Linked DNA regions of Homo sapiens: region 1 is linked to region 2. Evidence: fine-mapped expression QTL. Tissue or cell type: whole blood. Region 2 holds a variant in brackets; the other region holds the start of a gene. All regions are shown on one strand. Distances are from middle to middle.

Evidence for each region. PIP is the estimated chance that this variant, and not a neighbour inherited with it, causes the effect.
Region 1: LINC02019 starts here. The variant in region 2 is fine-mapped to the expression of LINC02019 in whole blood (TOPMed, PIP 0.98).

Annotation. Positions count from the first base shown.
Region 1 is chr3:50,666,364-50,671,611 of GRCh38, forward strand. It overlaps LINC02019 (long intergenic non-protein coding RNA 2019), which reads left to right and starts at 3,076. Exons shown (of 2, transcript NR_183733.1): 1 at 3,076-4,813; 2 at 5,008-5,248.
Region 2 is chr3:50,645,468-50,650,968 of GRCh38, forward strand. It overlaps MAPKAPK3 (MAPK activated protein kinase 3), which reads left to right. Exons shown (of 11, transcript NM_001243925.2): 7 at 243-318; 8 at 673-797; 9 at 1,273-1,358; 10 at 1,656-1,736; 11 at 2,427-3,824. The coding sequence ends at 2,579. Among named protein-coding and RNA genes, the nearest start is that of LINC02019, 21 kb to the right of the region's middle. RefSeq lists enhancers at 1,611-2,110, 3,602-4,155. The variant A/C (reference allele first, on the strand shown) is at 3,300.

The DNA of each region.
Region 1 (5,248 bases), 21 kb after region 2:
CCTTGGAGTAGGTGAAGAGGACTCCCTCTTAGCAAGCCCTTCCTTCTCCATGCACACTCACCCCAGTTAAGTCTAAAATTCTGTTCTGAGGACCTCATTTCCCTATGGACGCTGGTCTGAGTGTGCAGGCAGAACCATGGGAGCAAGCAGGGATATAACCAGTAATATTCACTCAGGTCTCAGTCAGGAGGGTGGCAGGGCCTTTCCCGAGGGCAGTCTTCCATGGGGGTGCAGGGCATGAAGGCACAATTGCCTTTGGTGCCTCTGTACTAAGATCAAGGAGAGAGTCAAACAAGAGGTTGGGATGGCATAGACATGTTTTGCTTAACTCACAATTGTGTCACAAGCCTCCTTTGGGCTTTTACTGGACTGATGATAAGTGATTGGATTATCCAAGACATGGGGATTAATTATTTTGGGCTGGACAGAAGAGTCCATGGACAGAGCTAGGTTACAAACTCCACTGCTCCACTGGCTGTTGCTTTCTGGAGGAATGTGAACTCTCATACAATTTGGAACCCACCTGGTAATGCCTGGATTCCAGAGCTGTGGGTGCACACACATCATTGCACCGTGTAGAATTAGAAAAAGATTTATCTAAAAATAACTACTGAGGAATATCTAATTTGATAGCAAGACTATGACTAATCCATGAAACAGACAGTCTGTGTGACAAGACACAGTACAATAATGGGGAGAAATTCATGTTTGACCTTTAAGCAAGTGCAAAATGAAACAGATCTATGCCTTGGCAGCTGAGGACCCTGTGGCTCTAGGGAGAGTGGCTGTGAGCAGGGGGTTTGATGGTCATGGAGGAGAACTGATGCAATATGTAGTTCTCAGGGGTGCTGCATCATGGAAATAGCTTAGGGAAATCAATTTCTTTTGGTGTTAAATAGAGAGAAGAGGCTCATGCTGAGTTAAGTGCTGGCTGGTAAGAGGCAGACGCAGGAGGCCAGCCCAGCTGCGCAGGGGTGACCAAACCAGCTCTCGCAGGCTAGCTTGGAGGAGAAGCAGATTCCACAAATGCAAGGAGACCCAGCATTTCTGGGAAGCAATTTGAGCTGGTAGGAGGGGAGCAAGGTTCCAAAGTTTAGTGAGCATTTACCTTGTGCCGGGCTCTGTGTTGAGAACTTTGCAGGCATTATCCTCAGAAGCATCCCTGATGTAGAAGCCATTCTGATTCCCACCTGACAGGAAGAAACTCGGTTCAGAGGGATTAAGCTACTTGCCTGGGGTCACCCAGCTAGGAAGTATCTATCTGGAGCTGGATGTGAACCCAGCTCTGACTCCAGAGCTCTCAAGTTCTATTCCCTGTTGCTAGGTCACCTGAAACTTGAAAAAGCCTGAGGCTGTCAGTGGGCTGGAGTGACAGACTGGGGCTGGGACAGGCTGGGTGCAAGTGAGGTTTTGGCAGGGGCCACCCCATGATGAGTTCTCATGAAAAATTGCCATGGCTCCTGGAATGGCAGGTTTCTGAATCAGGATCACTTCTCTGATTGTTCCATAACTCATAACTGCATATTATAAATTCTGATCCATCACCCTCAATGCTAATTGGAGAACAGAATAGTCCCCATTTCTTAGAGTTGCTCTTCTTCAGTGGTGACAGAGTGAGTACTATTCCTGCTGCTCCCTGGGTCAGGGCCCTGCATGTTCCGAGTACAAGTCCTAAGGTGTGATCTTGTGAGAGAATTCTCTAAAGATTTCTCTTTTTTGGCATCCTGTATTAAATGTTCCTCAAGGAAGAGATTAGCAGTAATCCTTGATCAGATTCAGGGCCAATTGCTTGTTGGTGCCCCTGGCAACATTCTTTCCCTGGACCCTTAGCATGGGCAGGGGTGTGAGGGACAAGCAAGGTGTTGAGACCACAGCTAAAGCAGTGGGTCACAGAACCTGGAGAGTGGGCTGTGTAGGGAGGTAAGCTGTGCTTCCCCTCCAAACCCGGGAGATGAGCGCTGGAGCCTGGCACAGATGTGCCATCTTGAGAACAAAGGAAAGATTGGCTCAAGGAGGAGAAAGAAGCCTGGAGTGGTCCTGTGTGAGCAGTGGTCCTAGATGCTTCTGCACAGACTTTGTTGGTGCTCAGAGAATTGGGGAATGTGCAGTGGTGCCTCTGAGCCCAGGACTCAAGAGGATAGGCCTTTTCCTAGGCTGTTCCCTCAACAAGCCCAGGATCTCCTTGAGGGGAGATCATGTTCTTATTCATGTCTCTTATCTCTGCTTCTGACCCAAGGTCTGTCAATGGCTGGTTCCCTAATGTCATGGGACGTGGCAAGGCCCCAGCGGCTGCCCCTATCTTCCACTCTAGTCCGCACATTTCTCCCCACTCCCCACTTGCTCGCTCACACATCATGTCCTGGTCACACTGGCCTTTCCATTCCTTGGATACGTTAAGCTCCTTCTTCACCAGATTCACCTTTCCCAAATGCTGCTTGCTCTGTCTAGAACACTTTTCTCTTCTTTACTTGGCTAATTTGTATGTATTGTCAGCCTCCAGTTTAAATATCATTTCCTCCAGGAAGTCTTCCCTATTTGCAAACTAGGTCAGAATCCCTGGCTGAGGCTCCCTCTGTACATGTACCCTTTCTCTTTCTCTTCTTTCCTAGTACTTGTATCTCTCTTCGTTTTTTTTTTTTTTTTTTTTTTTTTTTGATGGTGTTTTGCTCTGTCACTCACGCTGGAGTGCAGTGGTGGTGCAGTCTTTGCTCACTGCAACCTCTGCCTCTGTCTCCCGGGTTCAAGTGATTCTACTGCTTCAGTCTACCGAGTAGCTGGGACTACAGGCACCCACCACCACACCTGGCTAATTTTTGTATTTTTAGTAGAGACAGGGTTTCGCCATGTTGGCCAGGCTGGTCTCGACCTCTTGGCCTCAAATGATCTGCCCGCCTCAGCCTCCCAAAGTGCTGGGATTTACAGGCGTGAGCCACTGCACCTGTCCTTGTGTCTCTCATTAGATATTTGCTTGTGTGATTATTGGTTCAGTGTCTCTTCTCCCAACTAGATGCTAAACTCCATGAAGAGAGGCTGGGTGCAGTGGCTCGCTGTTTTTTTTTTTTTTTTTTTTTTTTGCTCTGGACCTGGCCCATAATAGGTGCTCAATAAATTTTTGGTAAATAAATGATTCAAACTTTTTACACTTCAAGATAAAAAGTATGAAAAGCTGGTGGGGATAAAGTCTCGGTTCTTTTCCTAGCCCCAGTCCCATAGCATTTCAGAGATGGGGTAGGTGGTGCTACACTACTCAACAGGCTTTTGTTTTTTAACTCATTTAACTCAAGTGAGTTGGTGAAGGCATTCAATTGGTGGTTTTTTATGTATAGAGAAATTACCTCTGTCCTGATTTGGAATATCTGTGCTATTTTGGGCTGTTTTTCTCTTTTGGGCCTGTTTGTATTGTAGCAATAATTTCACCATTTGGCTATGCAGAGGCCCAATTAATATTACAAATGTGGTCCTATAAAATGTGCTTTTTGACATCAGAACGTTTTGTTGCTAATTACTCTCCAAGGTTTTTAATTTCAAGCCCTCCTTGGTGACTTAGTGCAGAAATTTAAGGACATAATTATTTCCCCCCAAGGGAAAAGAGATCTAGGTAATGCCAAGTTTCTATCTATTTGCCCTTCCTTCCAGGGGGTATCTTGTTTTTGATTCTATCTCCGCCCTTTTTCCTGGACAGAAAATAAACATGCAAACAAAAACCCTATTGGAACAAAAATATAAATTTCTGGAAAACATTAAAAGCACTCATTTACTAATGTATTAATTAAAACAATATTTACTGAGCACCTACTATGTGTCAGATGCTGCATGCTAGGCACTAAAAATAAAAAAGAATATAGCATGGTGCTGTCTCCAGGTAGCTCACAGTCAAGTGGGCAGCAAGCAAGTGCTGGGAATTCTCTGACACATCTGGAAACATCTGGGGGTGCTTCTCATGGTGGGGCTTATTCATTAGAGCCCATCCAGAAGTGCCACATCAGTCTCCACGAATTAAAATCAGGAGAGCTTTGGCCATTTCTCATTTGAAGACCTTGGCTAACTGAAAGAAATCCACATTTTAATAACATTTTGAATGGGTTGATAAAATAGGAACAGATGGTTAAAGTTTGTCATTTTAGGGAAAATAATGAAATATTGTACTGCTTAATCTGTCTTCCTGTCACACTCTTCCCTATCCCCTCCCTACTGAAAATATATTCAGATGCAACAAAACTTAAAGCAAAATACTAATATCTTCTTAGACACTTTAGGTCTCTTCACCTGAAAGTGCTCTAATTGTGTCAGCCATCTCTGTGTTAACTTTATCTTTTTTTTTTTTTCAGACACATTCTCACTTTGTCACCAGGCTGGAGTGCAGTGGAGCAATCTTGGTTCGCTGCAATCTCTGCTTCCTGGGTTCAAGTGATTCTCCTGTCTCAGCCTCCTAAGTAGCTGGGACTCCAGGCGCATACCACCATGACTGGCTAATTTTTGTATTTTTAGTAGAGACGGGGTTTCACCATGTTGGCCAGGCTGGTCTTGAACTTCTGGCCCCAAGTCATCTGCCTGCCTCAGCCTCCCAAAGTGCTGGGATTACAAGTGTGAGCCACTGTGTACAGCCTTTGTGTTAACTTACTTTGAATTAGCCCCTTATTCCAAAGCTGCCTCCTGAAAGGAGGCTTCCTAAAAGGTGTTGCTTTGGGGTAAATAAGAGGTGCTGGTGAAGTGAGACTAGCTTGCGCATCTCTCTGCCATGAAGGAAACTAGCTCCGCAGACGTTTTACTAACCACAGCAGACCCCCTCCTTGAGGAACCCAGAAGGGCAGAGGTAAGTTGGGTAACGTGTTCTTAAGTCTTCCATTTACCTGACCCTGGGGTTCATATGGGGATAAGCTCCAGCTGCTGACACCTTCTGATCAAGAGAAGGCAGAATGTCACCACTATCACCTGCACTTTGTTTGGATTTGCCTCTATACCCACTGCATTTCTCTGATGTTTTTTTCTACCATTCTGTTTGGACAGAGCATCAGATGAAATCAACTGCTGAGAGAGGGAAGTGAGTGCTGTGTTGGCACCGCTGCCAGAAACTCTTGAGAATGAGCATCGTGTGCCACTTATCCACTGCTTGCCGACTTCAGTAGCAAGAGCCTCCAGAATGCTCATGGATAAACATCATCTTTGTGGCCACACATTGTTTTATGAGCTGAGTCATCAGACTGGCTGGCTCCTTAAATGCTGCTGTGTGATTCTCTAGGCAGCAGAA
Region 2 (5,501 bases):
TAGAGGGGCTCAGGCCCAAGGGAGCTAGGGGTATGTCTGAAAGTGGTTGATTTTTTTCCAGGAGCTTTCTCCTCCCCCAACTTCACACACATGCTGCCTTTCCAAAAGGTGCCAGACGCCAGTCTGCTCTGCCCTACCTCCCAGCCCAGGTACCTGCTCCCCACCTTGCCCAGGCTTTAGGCTCCTGCCTGGGCTCCAAGACCCTTGGGTCTGAGAGCCCTGCTGTCCCTCTGCCCTGGCAGCCCCTGAGGTCCTGGGTCCAGAGAAGTATGACAAGTCATGTGACATGTGGTCCCTGGGTGTCATCATGTACATCCTGTGAGTACCTTCCCCACCCCCTGCCTCCATCTCCTGCCCTTACCCCCACTGTGAGCCCTCAGGACCACTTCTGTCCCCCCACCCCCATGTCCTTGGTGAGGAGCTTGTGTGTGTCACTCCTCATGCAGGCTGCCCTTCCCTTTTGGTCATGGGACACCACTCCTTCAGGTGCCTGAGGGTCTCCCCATGCCAAGGGCTGATGGCATTCCTGGGATGTGCCTGGGAGTCCGGAGGGCTGGTATTATTGCTATGGTGTCTGGTTGTCTGTCTCCCCAGTCAGGGGCTTTTGAGGGGAAATGGGTCCACCCTGGCACTGCTCCCACCCTATGCCAAATGACTTACCCCTTCCCCCAGCCTTTGTGGCTTCCCACCCTTCTACTCCAACACGGGCCAGGCCATCTCCCCGGGGATGAAGAGGAGGATTCGCCTGGGCCAGTACGGCTTCCCCAATCCTGAGTGGTCAGAAGTCTCTGAGGATGGTGAGTGAACCTCTCTGTCCCAGCCTGACTCACCTGGCCCCTGCGGCTTTCATTCTGGGAAACATCACTTTGGTGTCAAACTGACCTGTGTTCAAATCTTGGCTCCCCCTCTTTCCAGCTATGGGACCCTAGGCAAGTCCCCTAACCTTCTTGAGCCTCAGTTTCTACATCTGCCAAACAGGCTCAAAACTTGCCTCCTCAAAACTCCCTCTAACTCCTATTCCTCATTCATATTTTCCCCTTTGAGGACCACAAACAAGGCTGCCCTGTATGAGTTATCTACTGCTGCTTAACCAATTATCCTGAACACTTAGTGTTTCAAAACAAGAAATAGTTGTTAGCTCACTCTTTCTGTGGGTTGGGAATTTGGGAGCACATGCAGCCCCTGCCCCAGCAGAGCTTGTGGTCTGTGGGGAAGGGTGGAGGGGCTGGCTCTGCAATCTCATCTCTCCCCTCTCTTCCCTGGCCCCCCTAGCCAAGCAGCTGATCCGCCTCCTGTTGAAGACAGACCCCACAGAGAGGCTGACCATCACTCAGTTCATGAACCACCCCTGGATCAACGTGAGCCCCTCCTCCTCCCATGGCAGGCAGGGTGTCCAACAGGAGTGGGGCTGCCGGGCAGGAGGGTGGTGGCTCTGCTTTGAGGCCCCAGTGCAGGGCTGGAATGGGCCCATGCACACAGGTAGATACTAGGGCCTCACCTACAACCTGGCTTTGTCACTGCCCTAGTGAGGCTCCTTCCCCACCCTGAGCCTTGGTTTTTCCATCTGAGTCTGGGAGAAGAGGATGGAGTAGGGGGAACCAGTGCTGTCCCAGGTGCCTCCAGTTTCTAATCCACGGGCGTGGGGCTCCTTCCAGCAATCGATGGTAGTGCCACAGACCCCACTCCACACGGCCCGAGTGCTGCAGGAGGACAAAGACCACTGGGACGAAGTCAAGGTGGGTGGGCTCTGCCTCAGTCTCAATACAGGTGCCAGGATTTGGGCAAAAGGGACTTCAGGGGGGTGGCTACCCAGGGTCTGGGGTCTTTGGCCCCTTTCTATACCTGGAGCACAGGGTGTCAGTGACTGTCGCAGTGGTCCAACCATGGCACTCCAAGGATTGGGCCTCACTACGCCATTCAGTGTGGTGCTCCTGGCTCACTTCCTCAATGAAACGGGGCTTTGGTACCAAGCTTGGATGATGACCTCTCTTATAACCAACAACATTTGGGAGGGTGGTCAGCCTGGTTTAGACCCAGCAGAGGCCACGTTTGAACATATGGAGTAGCAGCTCCAGTGGCACAATCTCCAGGCCCCAGTGCGCTGGTTGCCCAGCGAGATGGCATTCTCTGCAGGTCTTGTGGTTCTGTGGTGGAACTGGTTTAGTTCACTATCCCACTTACCCTTGGTGTGGTCCGAGGGAGTAACTCTCCTTTTGTGCCTTAGTGAATAAGCTCAGTGTCTACCACAGAGGACGGTAGTGAGGATCATGTGATGCAAAGGGCTTGGCCCAGTGCTGGGCACACAGTGGGCACAGAGGCAGCACAGGCTGTCACTGACATTAAGGGGCTGCCCAGGCAGGGGGGTGATGGTTCCTAAGGTCAGTACATCCTGACCTCTTAGTGCCCACCATCCTGTCTGTCCCCAGGAGGAGATGACCAGTGCCTTGGCCACTATGCGGGTAGACTACGACCAGGTGAAGATCAAGGACCTGAAGACCTCTAACAACCGGCTCCTCAACAAGAGGAGAAAAAAGCAGGCAGGCAGCTCCTCTGCCTCACAGGGCTGCAACAACCAGTAGCTCATGGGGCCTTGGAGGAGCCTGGCCTCTCAGCCTGCATAACAGACTGAAATGTGCTCAGGCCCTGGCCAGGAGGGCCCAGGGTCATTCTTTTAACAAAAGGATTATTTTGTTGTGTTTTAATTTGTCACTCGGAACTTCAGGATGGAGGACCCTGACCCTAAACCTCCTTCAGATCTCTGGCCCAGGCTCAAGCCCTAGAGATGGGCAGGGCCTAGGGGCTGGGAGCTGCCTGCTGCCATAGCAGCACCTTTAGCTAGGTTGGCCCGAGTGAGGCCTCTGTGCTGTCCTGCCCTGGTGCATGGCCTTAGCTTTCTAGGCCACTGGGAGTTGTGGCTGGGCTTCCCATCTTCCACAGAGACATCTCCCTGTGGGATGGGCAGATGGGCCTGGCCTTGAGAAAGGCATTGGCCATTGGTTGCCATGGTGACCAGGGACCACGTTGCTGCCTGTGAATGCTGAGTGAGCGAGTAAGGGAGGAGGGGCGATTGAGGGTTCACCTCTGCCTTGGGGAGGCTGATTTCTCACACACTGGCTGGCCCTCTCATTCTCACTCCTCCTTGGGCCCTGAGGCTGCTGGATCCGGTCTGCCTGCCTCCCTGTGCAGTCCAGCCCTGCCTTGCTGCAGCCCCAGCCCAGATGGCACTCAGCGCTCTCCCCTGAGGGAGTCCCTGGGCCTAGCCATCCCCTCACTATTCCCGACCCAAAGGGTGACTTTTC[A/C]TCTGAACTTAAGGTGGGAGATATTTTTAACTTTTTTCCACTTTGGAAAATGTCACTGTGACAAAAGCCAGCATACTTTCCCTGCACCCATCTGCTCACCAGATCTCAGGCAGGAAAGCCCCTCTCTGTTGAAGTCAGGGGCTATCTTTTGGTATACTTGTGTGAAAGTGGCTGGTTGGGAGCAGAGCTAAGTGGCTTCCCATTAACCTGAGGTCTCTTTCTTTACTCTGGGTCAGACCTGAGGTTGGGGAAGGCGACTGAGCCATGCTCAGAATGTCTGGTCCTGGCTTGGGCCTGAGTAGGGCAGAGAGGGCCTTTCCTGGCTGATCAGAGCTTACCAGCCCCACCCCACCATGGTAGCCTTAGGGTGCTGAGTGCCTGATACTGCCTGACAAGTGCCTGACACGCAGCCTAGTTCCTTCCTGGCCCCTCTCTCACTGGCTGGGAAACCCTAGACCATGTCAGATAGGACAACACTGCTGGGTTTTACATCCAGATAGTAATAAACACCATTTCATCATTTTCTCTTGGCTCCTGGGTTTACTCTTTGTCTACAGGGGTGGACAAAGGTGGCCCAAGGGCAGCTTCTCAGACCCACTAGTGATTTCACCCCAGCTGGAGGGGGTGCCTCAGGCCTGATAAGCATGCCATGCTAACTCCAAGGCCAGAGTCCTCGCCAGGCCTAGAAAGGTCAGAAGAGCTGAGGGATGGCAGCTGCCACATGCCCCCAGCTCTGTGCTGCCCCTGTGCAGTGTGTGTGACACCTACCCCCGGTCCTGTGTGTGCCAGCATCTGCCCAGAGTGGCCACCCCCAGCTGTGTGCCAGCCTGCTGAAGGGCGGGCAGAGTGCCTGCTGCAGCGCTGAGCTATTTTCAGAAACTGCCAGATTTCATTTGGCAGTGAGAATATCGAGGAGGGGAGGGGGCGGCATGCTGCAAGACTGTCTTTTGACTACTCCAGTAAGAGAGCACTCTCACCCCTCCGGAGCCCTTGTGGGTAGCTTCAAGGAGGGCCCTAACTGTGGCATTTCTCTCCCAGCTCCTATCTTGAGAAACCTCCCAGTTTTCCAAGAGCTCATCTGCTGCCTGCAGCGCTCTCTCCTCCACCCCCACTTCCTTCAGGGCGTGGGGGAGGGTGCAGAGATGCTGGAAGGCAGGGGACAGGCAAACACGCCTGAGATGTTCTGCTGCTTCCCAGCCTGGTGACCTTGGGAGCTTTCTTGGCCTCAGTTTCCTCAGCTGTGTCCTGGCGATGATAATGCCCATCTCATGGAGTCATGTGGGGGATTTGAGCAGATGATGTGTGTGAAGTACTTAGTGAGGTGCCAGGTGCGTGGCTCATGCCCCACACTCATTAGCTACTCTAACATCCTTAGTCATCAGGAAGGAGAGAAGTATCTAGAGTTATATCTAGAGTATCTAGAAGTCTCTAGAAGAAAAAGCAGCCCCAAGTCTGCCTCAGGAAGGAGAGAATATCTAGAGTATCTAGAAGTCTCTAGAAGAAAAAGCAACCCCAAATCTACCTCAGGAACTTTCTATCCAGACAATCAGGGCTTCCTCACCCATGGGGTTTCATTTCCAAGGGCCTGCTCCCCAGAGCAGCATCATGTGGGCCTCCTGGGCTTTGTTTCCAGTACTGGGCTTCCAGGAGGGTAGCCAGATAAATTCAAGAGACTCCATGGAGCCTGTGGTTCAGCCCAGCCTTCCTAGTATACCCTACATTTGGAGGAATGCTGGCCAGATGCAAAGGTAGATGTAGTCCATCTAGTCTCAAAGCTGTGGAGGCACAGATGGCCTTCCTTGCTTGGCTGCCAAGCATCCAGTGTACCTGAGATGCTGTGCTGGGTGCAAGGAAGGCTGCAGTGAGAACTTCAGACAGGGAGTTCACCTCAAGGTGTTTACATTCATGCGGGAGAAGGTGAAAACATCACATGTTGAAAAATGTTAAATTGGCCGGGCGTGGTGACTCACGCCTGTAATCCCAGCACTTTGGGAGGCCGAGGCGGGCAGATCACAGAGTCAGGAGATCAAGACCATCCTGGCCAACATGGTGAAACCCCATCTCCACTAAAATATAAAAAGTTAGCTGGGCGTTGTGGCAGGTGCCTGTAATCCCAGCTACTCGCGAGGCTGAGGCATGAGAATCACTTGAACCTGGGAGGCGGAGGTTGCAGTGAGCCGAGATTACGCCACTGCACTCCAG